Homo sapiens: one gene and its partners. The protein of the gene in region 2 interacts with the protein of the main gene of each other region in a pairwise test. Each region holds a gene or a part of one and is shown on either strand. Other genes may lie near its edges.

Evidence for each region.
Region 1: the proteins of RIBC1 (region 2) and TOX2 interact in binary tests that used the Homo sapiens proteins (3 or more experiments, as listed by UniProt).
Region 3: the proteins of RIBC1 (region 2) and MPPED2 interact in binary tests that used the Homo sapiens proteins (3 or more experiments, as listed by UniProt).
Region 4: the proteins of RIBC1 (region 2) and CCNC interact in binary tests that used the Homo sapiens proteins (3 or more experiments, as listed by UniProt).
Region 5: the proteins of RIBC1 (region 2) and RINT1 interact in binary tests that used the Homo sapiens proteins (3 or more experiments, as listed by UniProt).
Region 6: the proteins of RIBC1 (region 2) and GPSM1 interact in binary tests that used the Homo sapiens proteins (3 or more experiments, as listed by UniProt).

Annotation. Positions count from the first base shown.
Region 1 is NC_000020.11:44,050,852-44,054,351, reverse strand, and holds part of TOX2 (TOX high mobility group box family member 2), read right to left. Parts: intron 3,047-3,500; coding exon 2,807-3,046; intron 54-2,806; coding exon 1-53. UniProt on the Homo sapiens protein: Putative transcriptional activator involved in the hypothalamo-pituitary-gonadal system.
Region 2 is NC_000023.11:53,428,744-53,431,615, reverse strand, and holds the end of RIBC1 (RIB43A-like with coiled-coils protein 1), read right to left. Parts: exon of another isoform or gene 1,788-2,872; intron 1,763-1,787; coding exon 1,644-1,762; intron 1,221-1,643; coding exon 826-1,220; coding exon of another isoform or gene 822-825; exon of another isoform or gene 710-821; coding exon 628-709; 3' UTR 501-627; downstream 1-500. Other genes in the region: HSD17B10 (3-hydroxyacyl-CoA dehydrogenase type-2), read left to right, coding at 22-212.
Region 3 is NC_000011.10:30,534,354-30,537,853, reverse strand, and holds part of MPPED2 (metallophosphoesterase MPPED2), read left to right. Parts: intron 1-1,678; coding exon 1,679-1,860; intron 1,861-3,500. UniProt on the Homo sapiens protein: Displays low metallophosphoesterase activity (in vitro). May play a role in the development of the nervous system.
Region 4 is NC_000006.12:99,558,661-99,562,160, forward strand, and holds part of CCNC (cyclin-C), read right to left. Parts: intron 3,022-3,500; coding exon 2,937-3,021; intron 2,777-2,936; coding exon 2,707-2,776; intron 1-2,706. UniProt on the Homo sapiens protein: Component of the Mediator complex, a coactivator involved in regulated gene transcription of nearly all RNA polymerase II-dependent genes.
Region 5 is NC_000007.14:105,549,201-105,552,700, forward strand, and holds part of RINT1 (RAD50-interacting protein 1), read left to right. Parts: intron 1-854; coding exon 855-965; intron 966-1,060; coding exon 1,061-1,286; intron 1,287-2,369; coding exon 2,370-2,507; intron 2,508-3,500. UniProt on the Homo sapiens protein: Involved in regulation of membrane traffic between the Golgi and the endoplasmic reticulum (ER); the function is proposed to depend on its association in the NRZ complex which is believed to play a role in SNARE assembly at the ER.
Region 6 is NC_000009.12:136,341,039-136,344,538, reverse strand, and holds part of GPSM1 (G-protein-signaling modulator 1), read right to left. Parts: coding exon of another isoform or gene 3,379-3,500; exon of another isoform or gene 2,701-3,378; intron 1-2,700. UniProt on the Homo sapiens protein: Guanine nucleotide dissociation inhibitor (GDI) which functions as a receptor-independent activator of heterotrimeric G-protein signaling.

The DNA of each region.
Region 1 (3,500 bases), on a different chromosome or scaffold from region 2:
GGGTTCTTGGCCTTTTTTCCTGGGTCGGCTGAAGGTCTCTTTTCTCCCGAGATCTGCCCGAGTGAGAAGAGTCAGAAAACCAAAGAAGCCCAAGGGCCTCCTGCCAAAGGCGATCAACACAGACTTGGGCCGAGCTGCACTTCTCCAGCCCTGCTCATGCACAGATAACCACTCGCGCGATGGAGGGGGCAATGGACAGACAGACACACACACCCTGGGTGGGTGTTTAACTCATTAAAGAGAATCAGCATGATTGTAAAGTTGATTCAGAGAAATGCAGGAGGAGAAGACGGACTGTATAGTCACTGAAAGAATGGAAAGAATGCTGGAATTAGATTACTAAATTACACGTGAAACTGGTTAGTGCCCAATAGAGCGCTGAAACTATCACCTTTGGGACTTTTAATCTTTTCTACTGGACAGAAATTTGCATCTCTACCGGGCAAAGTTAATTTGCCTTATAATCAGACAAAAATCCCTTACATCTCTTATCACTTCCCCTCCCCCGCCCAAGGTAACATCTTCTTTTACAGAGTTGTGAAATCCCCTAATCAATAGTGAATAATGAATCAAAGCAAAGGTCCAGTTTCCTAGGGAATCAGATAATTATTGAGTGAGCCTGTTAGCCAAGGCTTTGGTATGACATTGAAAGAATGTGCAGTTATTTGGGGGCCTATTTCCAAGTTTGGAGTGTGTGTGCATGTGTGTATATGTGTATATACGTGTGTGTGTGTGTGTATATGTATATATATGTGTGTGTATATATAGTATATATATGTGTGTGTATATATAGTATATATGTATATATATAGTATATATGTATATATATGTGTATATATAGTATATATATGTCTGTATATATATGTGTGTATATATATATGTGTGTGTGTGTGTGTGTGTGTGTGTGTGTGTATATATCTGCCCTCCCACTTGTGAGCACAATCCCCAAAAAGGATCCTGCATTACAAAAGGCTGGTCTCCACCGCCATGTTTCAGCTGTGCAGCTTTGAGCAGGTGGCTTAGTCCCTTGACCCTGTGAAGTGGGGAGGGCACGAGGCTAAAGCGACTGTTACTGCGTCAGCCCTGGAACCAGTGGCTTCACTCTGGACAGACTGCAGGACCATGATCCTGTGAACACTTGACTTAGGGCTTCCAGGATGGGGTGGTGTTGGGATGCCCACCACAGACCTCAGTGGGTCTCTGTTGGGTCACTCAAGCCATGTAGGAACAGGGGACTTTGGTCAAAAGCCCTGGACCCTGTAGTGAAGACTCTGGCTCTAGGAGCCAAGAAGATGGAGGTGACATGTTGACCTGATGACAAAGCCATGGGCCAGTAGGCATGATCAGGCATCCATGTCTGAAGGACATGGTTCTGTTCCTGAGGCTTATCTCTGCAGCTACTCCCTTCTCCAAGCCCCAGTTGTGTTAGCACCGTGGTGTGACCCTAGCAAGATCAGGGATGAAGAGGCATGTTGTCATTGATAAAGTCCTGAACAGGCACAGCAGGGCAGGGGGTTGAGGGCACATACACTGGACTGCACCTGCAGCCTCCTGGGTTTGAATCCTGGTTCCCCCCACTTACTAGCTGTGTGACACCAGATACATTACTTAACCTCTCTGTGCCTCAGTGTCCCCATCTGCCAAACAGAGATAATAACAGTCCCTGCCCTATAGGACTTTTATGAGGATTACATGGACGTATACTTGTTATGTGTTTAGAGCAGTGTCTGGCCCATAGAGAGTGTTTGTTAAATAAAAACCGTTCCTGCATGGACTATAATAGAGGTCGAGTCATCCTTAGGATGAAGCTGGGCCAGGATCCAGAAGTAAACCCCTCTTCCCCCAAAGTCCAGGGTTACTGCCCTAGGCCTCGGGAGGCCACCACGTGGAAAGGACACTGGATCGACAGAGGCAGGAGGCACGGAGGGAGATAAGTCTTAATTCTGCCACTAGCTCGCTGGGAGGCCCTGGGCAAACACTTCTGTCTTTGGCATTTCTGGGCCTCTGTTTTCCTCCCTGGTAAGACAAGATGTTCTCTCACCGGGAGGTGGATTTGGAGTCAATGCAAAGAAGGGCCAGAGCCCGGACAGGTGGCGGGCTCTCATCCCTACCATGTTCTTGAGGAGGTCAAACCACTCTAGACTCCAGGAATGTTGGGGGAATGCATGTTCCCAGTGGGGCGGTCATTTTTGCACCCCACCCTCAAGGTCAGTGAATACTCTAGGCCCAGAGGTGCTGTCTTCTGGACCACACAGTTTTGTCAGAATATTTTCTCCTAAAAGGGCCAAATGGCCATAAATGTGACCCCGATGGCCTTGCTGAAGCCGTCCACACCTCTGAAATCGCCCACTGGCCTTCAGGAGTCAGTCTTTGCCAACTTTCACAGGATCTTCTCACCCCATCCCCTCAACATTTGTTGGAATTTTCTCTGCTTTACGCACAAGGCTGTGGGAGCCCCGAGGGAACACAGCTTGTCAAGGACGCTCAGCACTTGGAGCAGCCAAAGCCCGATGCCACAAAGCCCCATAGGTGCCATCCCCCCTGACCAGGTGCTCCACCTGCCAATGTGCTTTTTCCTTGGCTTCCAGCGTGGCCTGGGGGTCTTAACAGAAAACCACTGAGCTCTGTGGCGGACATCCCAACCGCCACCAGGAACGCCTGCTCAGTGGGAATGGCACCTACGGGGACCTTGGGACATCAGGCTTTTCTAGTCTTTACTAGAGGGAGGTGATGCCCATTTCCCCACAGGACCCCTTCCCTGCCGACAGGAGGGCAGCTTCAGGCTCTGTTCCTCCACCGCACATACCTTGAAATGCACTTCCGACTCCTCTTCCTGAGTGGAGCTGGAGGGAGAGGGGGTCGCTGACTTGCTCCCCGGCGGTGATGGGGAGCTGTGGGCGATGCTGCTCCGGATGCCCATCTGCGAGATGAGCTGGGACTGGCTGAGGGCACTCATGTGGCTGGCCAGCATTGCCGGGCGACCCAGCAGGGGCCCGGGCCGGCCCGAGTCATAGGCAGCCACTTCCGAGTGGACCATCTCCTGGATCTAAGAGAGGAGGACAGGAGGGTTGAGTTAGGAAGGATCTGTCCTGCCACTCCATCACATCTGTGCTAGCGGACTTAGAGGAGGGAATGCAGAGGAGAAGTGATGGGTGCGGCTCCTGCTCCGATCCCTGACAGGTGAATCTCAAGATGGAGCCTCATGCTACTTGGACCTCTGTATGATTAAGTGCACTCGTGGGAAACCGGCAGCTCCGTGGCTGTGTGCCATTCTACTGACATTCACCTCGGACAGACGCTTTGCATTTCAGCCCCTGCCAGAGAGCTCAGTCCAGTTATGTTGGATCATTTGATGAGACCGAGTCTTCCCTCCTGGAATGCAATATGTCTCTGCATGAACTGAGCAGTCAGCATGATAGCAACGCACACAGATGCTGGACGACGCTAACTACATTTTGAATCCTGGTCCTGCCATTCTACCAGCTGGGTGACTTTGGCCA
Region 2 (2,872 bases):
GAATTTGGCTATATTGTTTAGGTCTGTTTGGCACCCCACTGCTGACCAGCCTCCCAGAGAAAGTGTGCAACTTCTTGGCCAGCCAAGTGCCCTTCCCTAGCCGACTGGGTGACCCTGCTGAGTATGCTCACCTCGTACAGGCCATCATCGAGAACCCATTCCTCAATGGAGAGGTCATCCGGCTGGATGGGGCCATTCGTATGCAGCCTTGAAGGGAGAAGGCAGAGAAAACACACGCTCCTCTGCCCTTCCTTTCCCTGGGGTACTACTCTCCAGCTTGGGAGGAAGCCCAGTAGCCATTTTGTAACTGCCTACCAGTCGCCCTCTGTGCCTAATAAAGTCTCTTTTTCTCACAGAGTGTAGGCAGTGTTGTGTGCTAGGGGGCCTGGCATGGGGAAGAAATGTGAAGGCTGTGACAGGGTTGGATGCTCAGAGCTCCAGGGTGGGGTGGGAAAGGCAGTACCTTCATAATACTTTGTGTCCTGTTACAACATGTGGACTTGATTTTGAGTGCAGAACTTTATTACCTAGGTTAGAAGGTGGGAGTATGCAGCATTTTTCTCTTTGACTCCTAACCACCTGTGAGCTTGATGGAGGAGAAGGGAGAGAGAGATAGACATCCTGAACTTAGCGGCTGCTGGTGTTAAACTGCTGGTGATACTGGGCTGTAGGTTGATTGGTGTAGATTACTGAATTCAGGTAATCCTGCCTGTGAAAGAAGTCCAGAGGTCTCAGCTGACATGCTTTCCCTCTCTCCATGGTTCCTCACCATCCCTCCTCTCCCTCCCTTGGCATTTATCTCCACCACTACCACCTAGAACTCACTGGGCTTTTTGCTCATTAGCCAGCTGCTGGTTGAAGGATCCTAGACCCCTTTGAAATACAGCACACAATTCCCTCTCCTGCTCTTCTAGCTCCAGCACTGCCTGGGCTGAGCTCATGGTCTGGCTTTTCCATTCAGTATCCAGTGTTTTCTCAGCCTGACGGTGTGCTTGCTTCTTAGAGCGTTGTACTTCCTGCTCTTTCCTGATGGCAGCTTGCTGCTCTGGAGTCATGCCCTTCCAGCAATAGGGCAGGACCCGGTAGGGAGCCATAGGGTGTTGGGCGACCTGGGGGTTTTCAGTCAGTAGGTCACTCGTGCTCTGGTGCTGGATCTCCGCAAGGTTGGCCTTCTGTTCACGCTGACGCTCACAGCGCTGACGCCCAGCCTGCACAGCTGCCTGGTGGAGCCCCCAAATGCAAACATTTGGGTGCCCAACCTCAGGGAACTCTGTCACAGGGGAGGGGGGAACATGGCCCTACTCTTCCATCTCAAGGAGAAAGAACAGATACTGCATGGCCTTTCAATGCCCCTAATATGTGTTGGGGAGAATGGGCAGGGAACTTCTCTGCCTTCAGGAAGCCTTTAGACTGGGAAGCGGAGGATGAGAGGGCAATGTTCTATTCTCAAGTCATCCTGCTTCTGGAGGTGGGGAGAAGTGACTTGTACCCTAAGAGGGGCCTTCAGTGAAGGGGGAGTACTCAGATGAGAGGGCTGATGCTGATTTAAGAGGGGATGTAAGAGGAAGAATATGGCTAAGGTTCTCCAGGATTTTGTTCAGGAGTTGGGGAGAGCCCAAGGTACTGCATGGCTCAGGCCATACCTGCGCTTTGTTGGCGTTGGCCATGGCACACATCATGGCCGCACGACAGGACTCCTCCAGCCTGGCCAGATGGGTGGCCTGTGCATCCATGGCGAGGCGCAGCTGGTTACTGAGCGCATCTACACAGAGAAATATGGCCGGGGTACTGTACTGGCTTGCTCCATTCCTGTTTCACTCATCCAGCCATTTGTTCAGCAAGTTTTGTGTTTGTGTGTGTACGAATGTTTAGGAGGGGGTTAGTGTCCGAGTTGTAGGGATGTGGAAGGAACTAGGTGCAGCAACAACGATTTCTCAAGCGCATAACTAAAAGATGCCTCCAATGGACCTGGGTCCCAATGTCAGTTCTGCTGCTTCTGAGCTGTGTGATTTTGGGTAAATCATTTCATATCTCTGAATCTCAGTCTAAGGGCCATGTGCTGGGTTCTAATGATACCATCGAATTAAATCCTGTCCTCAGAGAACTCCCTGTCTAGTTGGGGACACAGATCAAACATAGACCACAATCTGGCAAGAGCAATGGCAGGGATGTACACAGGGTATTAAGAGGGTTTTGGATGGTGGAAAAGAGGAAGGCTTCCAGGAAGAGGTGATCCTTGAAATACATTTTGTATACAGGCTAAAAGAGCAAAGGGCATTCCAGGCTGAGGGCATGGCATGAGCAAAGGTACTGACAATTTTTTTCTGCTCCAGCCACACTGAGCTCCTTGCTGTTCCTAAGACCTGTCAGACACTGTACTATGCAACTGGGAGATGGGTAGACATGAAAGAGATGGTTCATCTTCAGTAGGCTGACATTTTAGGGAGAAGACAGATATTAAACAAATACTTTCACAATTAGCTACAACTACAATAAGTGGTCCAGCAGAACAGAGTGCTGTAACAGGGTTGATGTGAAGGGTGAACAGTGCAAGTAGATAAGACATGGTCCTTGCCCTTGAAGGGCTTCTTCTAATGGAAGAGAAGGATGTGGCCACAGACAATATCATAATAGTAGCTACTCTATGTGGTATAAATTATTATTCTCATTTTAAAGATGAAGAAACTGAAGCACAGAAGGGAAAATTCATTTGCCCAAACCAGCTAGTAAGTGGCAGAGCCATTAGGTCTGTCTGCACTGTGCTGCCTCCACGTAATGGAGTGCCAAACTAATCAAGAACAATGCTACACTGTCAGTTACTGAAGGAAGTCAGGGAGGTTGGGGTCTGCACAACCTAACATTTCAGCACCAA
Region 3 (3,500 bases), on a different chromosome or scaffold from region 2:
CAGGTTACTAATGAGATCACAGTGGATTAGTGAATTTTCTACGTGGTAACAGCATATTAATTTCTAACCTTTCTAACAGAAAAAATCCATTAATTTTTTGCGGAAGTTAAACTTTCTTTTTGGGCTTCCAATTAGACCCACTGTGATAACCAGTTCACAATTCCTTCCTCCCTACTCTCCTCCTTTCCTCCCTTCCTTCTTGCTCCTCTTACTTTCCTTCTCCGACACAGATAAGAGGAAATAAAAAGGTTAGTCATTGAAGAAATGTGGGACTATCCAGGTTGCACACTGATCTCTTCTATTTCCCTCACTGAAATTGTCATTGTTAAAACAGATTGTTTCTTTAAGAAAATAAATAAATAAAGGAAAAGAGAAAACAAATTAAACAAAGCCTGTAGAGGCAATATGTTTAGGGAGTCTTGTGTGGAGCTTTCAGTGTGTTCTCTGCTGCATGTTAACTATCAAGGGTTGGGGCTGGGATATGAAATATTGTTCCTTATTTAATGTTTCACACTCTAATCTCTGCATTGCATATTTGCTTCTCTTGTGACCTTCTCTTTGCATTTATAACTGCTTCTTTTCACCTATAATCCGAAAATAAGTGTACATTCCTACAGAGAAATTAAAGGAGGCTGTCAGTGTAGAGTTAATATAGTTAAAGCATCCTTAACTCTGCGACAAACCCCTTAAATAATTAAAACTGTATGCTTGAAGAGTCAGATTTGCATTCCTTTACCAAGTTTATTTAGTACACTTTGTTACACTCAATTAAATGAGGATGTTCTGTTTCATTTTCTTTGCTTTGGGTTGATCATTTTGCCTTTTGATTCTTATGCCCTGGTGTAATTTCACAGTGCTTAGGTCTCTAAAACTATACATATATTAACGTATATGTAGATATATACATCCCATTAAAAGGCTTAATATTTGTACTGAATAGAATCTTTGCCCAAGGCATTTGAGCATTCCTGGTAACCTCAGGTGTAACTGGGACTGCAGATAATTCATCGCAGTAAAAACGAGTTTGACAAAGTTCTTTTAACATCCAGTGTCTTTTTTTTTTTTTAATTTTTAAAGCTCTGTTATTTTGGCATCACCTTCTCTCCCTACGGTTTGATTTGTGAATAGCAAAAACCAGAAGATACAGGTGTTGAATGGTTGTGGAAAGGAAATTAAATATAAGTGCTATCTCTCCACATCTCAGTTGGCAGAGCATGTGCAGACTGCTCTCTGTAAATTAGTTCATTGCTTAAGTTATGCATGTTTAAGAAGGAATAAATTAGTTATCTATTTCCTAATGAGTAGTGGGATCAATTGGAGCATGATGAGAGAGAAATAGCATAATTTTGCTTCCCCAGTTGAGGTTCAGTATCCCTAAACTTCACCATTAATCACTCTATCAGTTTCCTGGGTTATTTCAGATCTATATGTAAGATATTCATTCCTTTTAATTTTCCTACCAGGTAAGTAAGTCCTTTTGAATTTGCCCAGTGGGTTTGTAAATGGGTGATGCTGTCTCTGTTACACCCAGAAGTGTCCTTAATTACAGTGGGCCCTTCTGCCTTTGCGTCAGTTTGTCTGGGTGCATTCACGAATAATAATAAATATGTATGTGCGACGACAATTTCAAGGGTTCTAATATGTTTAACTGTTATGGGATCTGTTATGTCTACTTTAGGGTCGACCCCATCCCATATGACACTCCAAAACCAGCGGGCCACACGCGGTTTGTCTGCATCTCAGACACACACTCCAGAACAGATGGTATCCAGATGCCTTATGGGGACATCCTTCTCCACACAGGCGATTTCACCGAGCTGGGACTGCCCTCAGAGGTTAAGAAGTTTAATGACTGGTTAGGTAAGGAATGATTGCGTTCTGGCGGCCCCAATTAACCTTTCCCGTCCGAGTGTCACTCACTGCGTCCTAATTGAATTAGAGCACTTGGAAGCCAGCTCAGCCATTTCTCGTATGATATGCGGTGGTGTCTAGCTTTAATCCAATTCTGTTAATTAAAGATGAATTTTTAGATATTTAATTTTACTGTGCATCCTTTCAGTGCCTGGCCTTGGTGGCTCTGGGGCAAAGGGATGGAAAGCTTTGAAACCCATCTCATCTCACTCATTCTGCTTTAATGAGGGCATTCATTGGCACACAGGAGACCTAGAATCATATTTTTAATTCATTGGCTCTGCAATCTTTTTTTCCCCAGATATTATAAGCAAAGATATACAAATGACCTACTAGTAAGAGAACATTTCTAAGAAATGAAGGGGTTATAAAAGTCCTTATATGAAACAAAATTCCTATAGCACAGTGCTGCTTGGGAGCGGATTTCCTAAGTGAGCTGGAGGGTGTTCTAGACCCCTGAAAACATGAGATATATTACTGTAAAGTAAAAACTTGGGATGTGAAGTTGCCCTGTGTCCTGTAAAAAGGATAATAGCAATTTTCTGGATATTGTGGAGGCACCCACAGGTCAGTTACTGCAAAATATTGGATCCTGGTTCCTCTTAGCGGAGGGAAAGAAGTGCAAATGTTCTGAGATTTTAGAATCCCTAAAGACGAAAGAATTATATAGTAAAGAGCAGACGTCACTCTGGGAGCGTAACATTGTCAATAATATGTCAGCCAACAAAAATAACTTGGGAGATTTAGGCAAAAACATTACAACTTTGTTTTCCATCAAACTAAAGCAGGGTTTGAAAATTTTTTAAATTTTCGATTAAATGATAAGACGTGTTAGTGGAAAGATGATATTTTAGAATTGTAAGCAATAAACTTAACTAATAACATAATTATTTTGATTTTTCATGTGACTTTGCTCATCTGTTCACATTTTGTATGGTTGACATCTGAGTACATATCTGCTTTTTGACTTTTGGCTGTTTTCATTTAATAGTATTTATTGGTAAGACTTAAAACGTTTTTGCATAATTTTCATATTCTTTTTAATAGCAGCATGGCATTCATATGGTTGGCTATGCCTTTCTTTAATAAGACATCTCTCTAAAAATGAGCATTTAAATTGATAACAATTTTTCCTCTGGTAGCTAGCACTGAAATGTGCATTTTTGTTTGTGTATGTCGTTTTGTTTCTATTGATTTATTTCTTAGGGAAAAATACTATACTTAATTTGCTAAGTCAAAGGATATGAAATTCTTTATGGTTTTTGCTACATGTTGGCATGTTGCTTTTCAAGGGCACTGTAGCTGTGTGTTTCACTAGCAGTGAATGAATGTATAGGTACTAGTTTTATCATGGTCTTGGCAGCATTGGATGTTGGAGCATTTATATTTTGTGCTGTTTTAGTAGGTACTTAATCATGTTATTTAAAATGGCAAGATATTTTAAATATTATTTAGCATAATCTCATTTTTACAGATGACACAGAGATGTAGAGAAGTTAAGTGATTTTTTCAGTTTCATAGTGGCAGAGTTGGTTCTAAATCCAGATCTTTTCGCTTATGTCTTTTTTCTCTACAATAATCTCTTTATT
Region 4 (3,500 bases), on a different chromosome or scaffold from region 2:
TTGAGGTGTGAAGTACTTACACTCCTAAATGTACAGGCTGATTACCCCTTATCTGACATGCTTAGGATCAGAGATTTTTCTGATTTAGGAATATTTTGCATTACACTGGTTGAGCATCCCTAATCTAAAAATCTGAAATGCAAAATGTTCCAATGAGCATTCCTTTGAATGTCATGTTGGCCCTCAAAACGTTTCAAATTTTGGAGCATTTAGGATTTTCAGATTACGGATATTCTGCCTGTATTACCTCTCCCCCAAATTGCTACAACTTAAGACATATTTTAAAATAATTTTATAATTTAATAACAATAAAAGGTACCAAATTAGAAACCAAGCCTTAAGGTTACAGTGTCAGTTTTTCCATTTAAATTAGTTTCCAAGAAGATTGTTTACATTCTATACTTAATTGCAAGAATATTAAGTATGTTTCCTATTCAATTCAACCTGTATTAACAGATACTTCATGCCATTCTATGGTAAAACAGTTGAATTTGTGAATAAGATAAACCTTAATTAATCACCAAAAGAACTAAAAAAAAAAAAAAACCATATAAATAGTTACTATCCTTTTTAGAACAGGGAGACAGGAATTACGTAAGACTTCCAAAGTCAGTTCCCATTTCCTCTTTCAACTGAACAACCACCATTGTGAAAATACTAAAATTTATTATGATCCACCTTATATATACTGTTTCATTTATTGCCTCGTAAGATTTCTAAAGCCTTCACTTCATTTTAAAATAAAAAAATCAAGAGTTGGTTTCTTATCCAACAAAAGGAGCTAAACTAAAAATCTATTTAAATACCTTCAGCCTACATCCTTATCCTGTGTAGGGGAAATGTATGTGTACTAATATATTTGTTTTACATTTAAACCTCCAACTATAATAACTGAAAAGAAAAAGTAAAAGCCTGAGACATGTTCTTAAATGAGCTTTCCATACAATTTCCATAAAACTAGAGAAAATACAGAAAGATTTGGTCACAGAGATAAAAAAAAAATAATAATAATGCTACGACCAAATCTGAAAGACTACATTCTCTTTCTCAGGAATAATTCTTTTTTTTTTTTTTTTTGAGATGCAATCTTGCTCTGTCACCCAGGCTGGAGTACAGTGGCATAGTCTTGGCTCACTGCAACCTCCACCTCATGGGTTCAAGCAATTCTCATGCTTCGGCCTCCCTAGTAGCTGGGATTACAGGCATCTGCCACCACATCCGGCTAATTTTTGTATTTTTAGTAGAGACGGGGTTTTGCCATGTTGGTTAGGCTGGTCTCAAACTCCTGACCTCAGGTGATCCACCCGCCTGAGCCTCCCAAAGTGCTGGGATTACAGGTGTGAGCCACTACACCCGGCCTAGGAATAATTCTTTATCCAAAACTCAAAGGGAAAACTTTCATTCAGTAAATCACATCACAGAGTTCTACTCAGTAAATCACATAACAATATTTAACAAGTAAGATAGATTAAAATCCTCAAATTAATCTACAAGATTAAATGTTTATAAAGATTTTTTGTCTTGGTCCTCCATACTGCCTGTGCTTAAGAGACTTTAAATTATTACATGGTAATATTTAAATAAAATCAAATATTACATAGAATTATTAGAATTAGAAAACTCAATCCATAATAAGGACCTTAACTGATTCTGCCTTCTTAAACTACCACTCACAATTAGAAAACATAAACTTCTAGAAAGCTTGTCTTAATATTATTTCTAACAGAGTCAATTGTCATTATTTAGGTAACAGTTGGGAAAGATGTCATGGATAACCTTAAATCATGGCTAAAACAAAACTAAATCAAAGTGGGTGCCAAAAGGAATGTAAACTTACTAGGTAAAAATCACATTCAATATTCAAGAATACAACTCTAAGAATAGAACTCTAAGACATTATCCAAAAATAGAAACATAATGCAAAGATTTCACACCACCAAAGACTACATTATTTATGAAAAACAGCCAATATCTGCTATTATTTTCTGGACTTTAGCTGAGCTCTTTCAAAAATACTACAAAGGTAAAACAGTTGAACAGAAATTCAGTCTCTGCCGCAAGTTCCTATCTATCTTCTCTCCCTTACCTAATTTCTCTACGCTCACAACCTCAACTTTTACTTGTTAGACTCTATATAGCTATAGCTTCCCCTAATCCTTGCCTTCCTTCTGGCTTGGTAGGCAGCCAATCATCAGGATGATGGGAGGGAAGACAGGAGAAGATAAGCATATGGGTGAGAAGCATAAGGGACATTCTCAGGTTATGGTAGGCAAGCTGTGGTACTTACTGAATACTACTCAGTGCCAAACAATAGATGTCTCAAAGGCAGCAGAGGAAAGTAGTTAAGAACACAGGATTGGTAACGAGACTCCCATGGTTCAAACACGGGCTCTCACACTTACTAGCTATATCATCTTAAGCAAGTTCTTCATCTCTGTCTCAGTTTCCTCATTTATAAAATGGGAATACTACTACTATGTATTCCAGTTTGTTACAAAGATTAAGTCAGTTGGTACACAGTAAGTGCTGTATGTGTCTGTTAAGTGAATATATAAGGATATGTATATATTTCTTTGATTTTGTACAATTTTAGTATTTTGCATAAATTACCATTTATTAATTTTACATAGGCCATGTGAAAACTGGGGCAGATTAACCAACATACATTGACTACACTTTGATGAAGAACAGAAAATTGTTTTATACCTCTACTTTGGATGCCAAAAACACACATGTAGGAGCCATTAATACAGGATCTATACTTTTCAGAGAATACCTAAAATATGATAAAACAAAGTTAAATATCATTCATACAGAAAACACACTGGGAAAAAAATCAAGATAACTCTATGGTAGACACATGATTCATTTACACTGTGCTAAGGTTCATCAACATTAGATAAGAGTTCAAATAAATAAAATAAAAACAATCCTACCTGGCATAGAATCTCTTGAAATATACCGTAGCAGTGGCAATAACTTGTTGTCTTAATTTAAGATGTTCACCTAATGCTTGGATAACTAAAAGGCAAATAATGAAATTTTAAATGTATCTTCTGGTATCATTATAATATTAACATTGAACAGTAACTTCCATGTGGTTAAATCATAATTATGTTCATTTTTAACAAAGGAAAAAACCTACACATGCTCTATGTGAGTCACAGTGGTCTAATTCTAGGATTTGCAAATGTGTTAAGAAATATATAGGTATGCATAAACAACAACAAAACAACAACAAAACAGAAATTGCCCCACAGGAAAAAATTATTCATCCATTAAGGAAGTTGAATAAATATTTCCCCTCTATCTTCTAAATATTTTTAATGCTTTTCATAGTATCTTTATAATAAATATAAAAAGAAAATATTAGACACCTATGAAACTTGTTAATACTACCACTTTTTTTGTTGTTTTGAGACAGAGTCTCGTTCTGTCGCCCAGGCTGGAATGCAGTAGCACGATCTTGGCTCACTGTAATCTCCACCTCCCAGGTTCAA
Region 5 (3,500 bases), on a different chromosome or scaffold from region 2:
GGTCTGGAACTCCTGACCTCAGGTGATCCACCTGACTTAGCCTCCCAAAGTGCTGGGATTACAGGAGTGAGCCACTGCGCCTGGCATGTACTTGGTATTTCTGCTCTTAAACCTGTATAAGACATGCGTAGTTTTTGTAATGCAGACTAGCAATTTTTTTTTTTTGGAACGAAGTTTCACTCTTGTTGCCCAGGCTGGAGCGCAATGGTGTGATCTCGGCTCACTGCAACCTCTGCCTCCCGCGTTCAAGCGATTCTCCTGCCTCAGCCTCTTGAGTAGCTGGGATTACAGGTGCCCACCACCACGCCCAGCTAATTTTTGTATATTTAGGTGAGACGGGGTTTCACCATGTTGACCAGTCTGGTCTTGAACTTCTGACCTCAGCTGATCCACCCACCTCGGCCTCCCAAAGTGCTGGGATTACAGGCATGAGCTGCCACGCCTGGCCAGCAATTTTTTTCTTGATTTACTTTTTGAAAATAAAAACCATAAGAAAATAATATTAAAATTATTTTCAAATGCTATTTCAAAAAATATAGGCCATCAGTTCTTTGTAATACTCATCATTTTACATATTATTGAAGTGCTAGGTTTTAAATATATATGGCATTGTAAATTTATGAGTTTATTGACTTAAGTCATATTATTGAAATTTGTTGGGAGTACATTAGCAAACATTTGATTATTAAGCCTTGCAGGAGTTTAAAATTTGGAGTAGAAATTGTGCTCTTACATACAGGAATTTTCAACTAATTTTTATAAGTGTTGTGCATATACAATTAAATAGAACCATGTAATTGTAACTTTCTAATTGGAATGACTTAAGAATTCAAACTATTTTCCTCCTTCCTTAGCCAGAATGGTACTTGGCTCAAGTACTTATGTGGATTGGAAACCATACTGAATTTCTGGATGAGAAGATTCAGCCAATATTAGACAAAGTAGGCTCTTTGGTAAACGCAAGGGTAAGAGACTCAGTCATAAGTGTTTCTGTTTTAGAACTGTATGTGTGCATGGATAACTTTTTATTTACATACCTCATGTTTGTGTATTTTTTTAGCTTGAATTTTCTCGGGGCCTTATGATGCTGGTTCTTGAGAAGTTAGCCACTGATATTCCTTGTCTGCTATATGATGACAATCTCTTCTGTCATTTGGTGGATGAAGTACTCTTGTTTGAAAGGGAGCTACACAGTGTTCATGGCTATCCTGGCACTTTTGCTAGTTGTATGCATATTCTATCAGAGGAAACCTGTTTTCAGAGATGGTTGACGGTGGAGAGAAAATGTAAGTGCTGATGTGGCCAGATGGTAGGGAGATATGTCTGTTTCTGTGGGTATACATTTTTGATATTTTTCTTCTCCAGTTCTAAATAGGAACTAGAGCCATTTGAAATTTCCTTTTCAGGGTTTTCTGTTTCCTTCAGAGATAATCTTTTCTTTACTTCACATGAAACTTCCATTTTTCCTGAAATTACACTCTACATATTTCTAGAGTGGAATAGTCAAGCCAGTGGGGTGTTTGTTTTATAGATTTTATCATATAATTTATTTTATTTTTATTTATTTATTTTGGGACAGACTCTTGCTCTGTTGTCCAGGCTAAAGTGCAGTAGTTTGATCTCAGCTCATTGCAACCTCCACCCCCTGCGTTCAAGCGATTCTCCTGTCTCAGCCTCCCGAGTAGTTAGGATTACAGGCACGCACTACCACGCCTGGCTAATTTTTCTGTTTTTAGGAGTGACAGGGTTACAACATGTTGGCCAGGCTGGTCTGGAACTCCTGACTTCAAGTAATCCACCTGCCTTGGCCTCCCAAAGTGTCAGAATATTTTATTTTTTTATTTTTGAGATAGGGTCTCACTTTGTCACCGAGGCTAGAGTGGAGTGGGCCGATCATGGCTTACTGCAGCCTCGACCTCTGGGGCTCAGGTGATCCTCCTGCCTCAGCCACCCCAGTAGCTGGGAGTATAGGTATATGCAAGCCATGCCTGGCTACTTTTTGTATTTTTTGTAGAGATGGGGTTTCCCTGGGGTTTTGCCCAAGCTGGTTGTGAACTCCTAGACTCAAGCAATCCACCCACCTTGGCCTCCTGGAGTGCTGGGATTACTGGTGTGAGCCACCGTGCCTGGCCAATAGAATATTTTTTACTGTAGCTTATCTAGTCAACATAACTATTTTCAGAATTTGGGGATGGGAGTAAAGTATCCTGTTTAAAGCATTAATTAAGTTAAATTTAGTACAACCAGTGGGATATTGTAGGTTTGTTTCTTTTTTATAGAAAAGCCATCATTCCTAAAAAATTACAAGTTGAATAATTAGGAACGACTGTAACTACTTAATTGACATAATTGTTTTGTCTGCTTATCAGTTGCTCTTCAAAAAATGGACTCAATGCTTTCCTCAGAAGCTGCCTGGGTATCGCAATATAAGGATATCACTGACGTGGATGAAATGAAAGTTCCAGATTGTGCAGAAACTTTTATGACTCTACTCTTGGTTATAACTGGTAAGTATGTCTTTTAAGATATGACTTTGTTTTAAAAGTACTGTTTTCACGTGGTAGTTTTTAAAGTAGCTCAGTAGGCTGGGTGCAGTGGCTCATGCCTGTAATCCTAGCACTTTGAGAGGCTGAGACGGGCAGGTTGCTTGAGCCCAGGAGTTCGAGAACAGCCTGGGGTACATGGTGAAATGCCCTCTCTTCCGAAAAAATACAGAAATTAGCCAGTTGTGGTGGTGTGTGCCTGTAGTCCCAGCTACTTGGGAGGCTGAGGTGGGAGGATTTTTTGAGCATGGGAGGTAGAGGTTGCAGTGAGCCATGATCACGCCACTGCAGTCCAGCCTTGGTGACAGAGTGAGACCCTGTCAATAAAGTAATCAATAAATAAGTGGCTCAGCAAATTAATATTATATGATGGTTGTTATCTTCAAATTCAGTTTCTATATTGGTAGAAATCTAACACAATATTCTAACTTTTGGGTTTTTAATAATTTAAGGATTTAAACATTGGTATACATGAAGGAAAACTTCCTGAATAATTACACAAAAACAATTAAATAGGAATTTAATTTTATTATCCAAACTGTCTTGCTATTGGGCTTTTTAGGTGTCTTCAGTAAATGGTGATTGGCCTATATTTTAAATATTGTCTTGATCTTGATTTATCAAAGATTGCAGAAGAGAGTAAAATAATGAAGTAATTTTAAGGATTGGAGTAGTAATAGGAACTTTTGTTACAGTGCAGGGATTCTCTGGCTGGAGGGTAGCCTAGCATCCTCTGGCCCTGGTTGGTCTTTAGCCAATCACGTTGCCCCCTTGTGGGCCTGCTTGTTGTCCAGGTGCCACTGGACCCTCATTGCCACCATCCCTGGCCCTCTTCACCTTCGTCAACCACTAGCCTGTCCGTTTCTTAGGCTTGTCTGGTAACCTGAAGAAGTATCATTCCAGCCCAGTCAGTAAATAATTCCTTTTTTTTTTTTTTTTTTTTTTTTTGAGATGGAG
Region 6 (3,500 bases), on a different chromosome or scaffold from region 2:
AGAAGCCACCAGTGTTCTCAAGCTCCCCCTTCTTCCTCGCTGTCTCTGCTAGGTGAGGACACAACAAGAAAGCGCCGTCTGCCAGCCCGGAAGAGGCTCTCGCCAGCACCCGAGCACACAGCACCCAAACCCTGGCCTTCTGGCCTCCAGAGCCGTGAGGAGTAAACGTCTGCTGTTGCTGCCCCGGCCTGCGGTGCTTTGTGAGGGCAGTCGGAATGGACCATGATGGTCATCTCCCAAAGGTGCTGCAGCCTGCTTCCCCTGTTCCTGTCCGCGCCTCCCCTGCTCCTGTCTGCGCCCCACCCCGCTTCTGTCCGCGCCCCCACCCCGCTCCTGTCCGCGCCTCCCCCCGCTCCTGTCCGCGCCTCCCCCCGATCCTGTCCGCACCTCCCCCGTTCCTGTCCGCACCTCCCTGTTGGGCTTTTCTTTCTCCCAAAGCTCATCCCATGTGGCTCACTCCTGGGCTCCCCGTTCCTCACCTATCAGCTGCTGGACGCGGCTCAGCGGTCTTGGTGCCAGTGAGGGCCCCAGCAGTGCCTGGCACACGGCAGGAGCCTGGTGACCAAGCAGCAGGCATTTACTGTGTATCTGCTGCGTGCGGGACCCTGTGTGCCATTTCCCACACACTGTCCCCTCTGGGCCCTCTTAGGCGCACGGACAGAGGGTGCATCCTCCATCCCGGCGGCTGCCCAAGGGCCACTGGGCTGCTGGAACAGGCGGATGGTGCTGCAGCCACACCTGCCTCGTCCACCCAGGGCCCGAACGCAACAGGCTTACGGGCCCTCAGGCTCGCTGGCCTCTCACCCCTGCCAAGCTCTGTTCCCAGCACTACTGATGGGCCCGTTCCCCAGATGGGGACACTGAGGCACAAGTGGGTCAAGTCACTTGATCAGCTGGCCAGGGCTGGAGCCCACAGCCTAAACTGCAGGGGAGGTTATGCCATGCACATCCCTGACCCCAAGGCCACTCGTTGGGACGTTCAGGGGACTTCTCCCAGGAAGGCTGGTGGCATGCTCCCCCAGTAACTCTTGTGTACCGTGCTCACAACGCCCTGAGCAGGGCCCAGACGGTGGAGGGCTGAGAAGTACGGTCAGCAGGGCCGAGGGCAGTCGCACATCCTGTGGGACAGGCAGGGCCATCGGGGACAGGCCAAGGGCAGGGGGCGGTCCTGCAGGGCTCAGGGCCGGCTCCCTCCTCCCAACATGCCAATCATGCTGCCCGCACCAAGAGTGGCAGCAGAGCCTCCGTCCTGCCTGGCACCCTTGCTGGGGTGGGGGGTGGGCAGCCCAGGAGCAAGTGTGGGAGGCCCGGGCCTGTGCCCTCTGGCCAGGGAGGTGGGGGCTGGTTGCTGTCAGGGTCTCATAGAGGCCACACACCCAGAGGAGCTGGACAAGGGCAGTGGCTGGCAGGGTGGTGACCCCCAGACACACTTCTGGGGCTTCTCTGCTGGCTGGGGAGGGGCCAGCAGAGGGCGGTGAGATTAATACGCTGACTGAGCCGCGCCAAGGCTCTTTGTCCTCCAGCCGCACGTAAGTCTCCTTGTGTTTATCAACGGGACACCAAACCCACCAGCCTCTGCCACGCCCACCGCCCCCATGGACCACGCCCACAACAGCAAGGCCACGCCCCACCGCGTCCCCGCCGGGCTGAAGCCCCACCTCCAGACGACTTCCTCCTCCCTGCCCACACCCCGCTGGGCAGCGCCCTCCTGTGCCCCCAGCCCTGGCGCCCCCTCCGCACGGCCAGGCTCTAGCGCGGCTCTGCACCCCCCTCCCCTCCCGCAGCTCGCAGATCCACCCCGCCCTCCGCACCTGCCGAATGGGGAGGCTGCGTGGGTCCTTCCGTGGCGCCCCCAACCCGCAACGCCGGGTCCAGACTCCCGGCCTCAAGGCCCTGTCCCTGCCAGGCTCAGCTGAGCCGGGGTCTCACCCAGGGCCGCCCAGGCTCTAGGTGTGCAGCCTGCCTCCCACAGCGGCAGCCGGGCGGCGGCCCCAGCCAGGCTGCCGGGCTGCCCTGGGCGGGGAGGAGGACCCTTCCCCAGCCCTGGGGGAGGAGGCGTCCGGCCGGCTGGAAGGGGTCCCGCACTCGGGGCGGCACAGAGGAGCCAGAGAGGGACAGAAGCTGCATTGTTCCAGCGTCCTCCCACTCCGGCCCCCCTTTTCCTTGGCTCCAAGAAAGAAAACGTCGGGAGGACCCAGAGCCGCAGCCTCCGCGGAGCCTTTCCAGAGCTGCTCCCAGCCCTGCTGCCAGTTGCTGCTGGGGTCCCAGATGGTGGCAGTGCCGAGCCAGGGACACAGGAGGGTACTAGGGGTGCCGCAGGAGCTCTCGGCAGAGCTCCCCACCCTTAGGAAACCCCGGCCATGGGTAGAAATAGGCCTGGACATCCTGGGGGGCACATTCCAGCCCATCCCCTACCCACCCACTGCCATCGGTCACAGCACCTTGTCCCACGGACTCGCTGAGGGCCCCAGAGCCTCTGCTCCTTCCTCTGTCTTCAGCCTCTGCGGTGGCTGACATGCACCCCCAATTTCCCAGGAGAGGTCATCGTCAGAAACCCATGAGCACTGTGGCACAAAAACCCAGGGGATGGCTGGGCACGGTGGCTCACGCCTATAATCCCAGCACTTCTGGAAGCCGAGATGGGAGGATCGCTTGAGGCTGGGAGTTTGACACTGGCCTGGGCAACATAGTGAGGCCCTATCTCTATAAAAACATTTAATTATTAAAAATAAGATAAGAAAAAGAAACTCCGGCAGCCCAGCACCACATCCAAGCCTGGTGTTCCCAGCCTGGTCCTTAGCAGGCCTGGGGGGCACCAGGTACGTTCTGGGAGGCAGGCATCCCTTCTCGGGGGCTGGCAAACTCAAGACCTTTGGGAGTGGGGGACACATGGGTGGGGCAGCTGCTCCCCCCAAGCCTGCCCCTCACCCACCTGCCAGCCACCTCAGGAAGTCGGCCCAACCTGGCACCACCCCCCTGGCACCTATTAGTCTTTTCGCTTTGCAGGGGACGTTCTGTCCTGTGTCTGCAGCACTGCTGACCGGCATGGGACGACCAGCGGTCCATGAATGAGGTCACCACGGTGGCCTCGCATGGCCTTGGGCCTTGCCTGATTACTGCCCCAGGCACATAGGGCTCCCACAGCCCAGCCCAGCCCAGCCCAGCCCAGCCCTCTGGCTGATGCCCTCTCGCCTCCCAGCAGCCCTCTCCTACTTGGGTCTGAGGACAGAAGCCCTCCCTGCACCGAGGGCTCCAGGGGGAGGTGGGGGTGGAGGCCCTGGAGCAGCCAGTGGGGCAACAGGCGACCACCTCCTGTCCTTCATCCAGCAGCCCTGCAGCGCCACTCAGGATGCGGGTGGGAAGGGCTCAGGGTGAACCTCAGGCCTGTGCTGTCCCTGAGGCCAAGAAGAACTGGCTTGTAGGCGCCATTTTCTGGCGGCTGCCACCTCCGCCATGCTGGCCTGGCCTCGATCCCACCCCTCCGCAGCTCCTGATGCGGT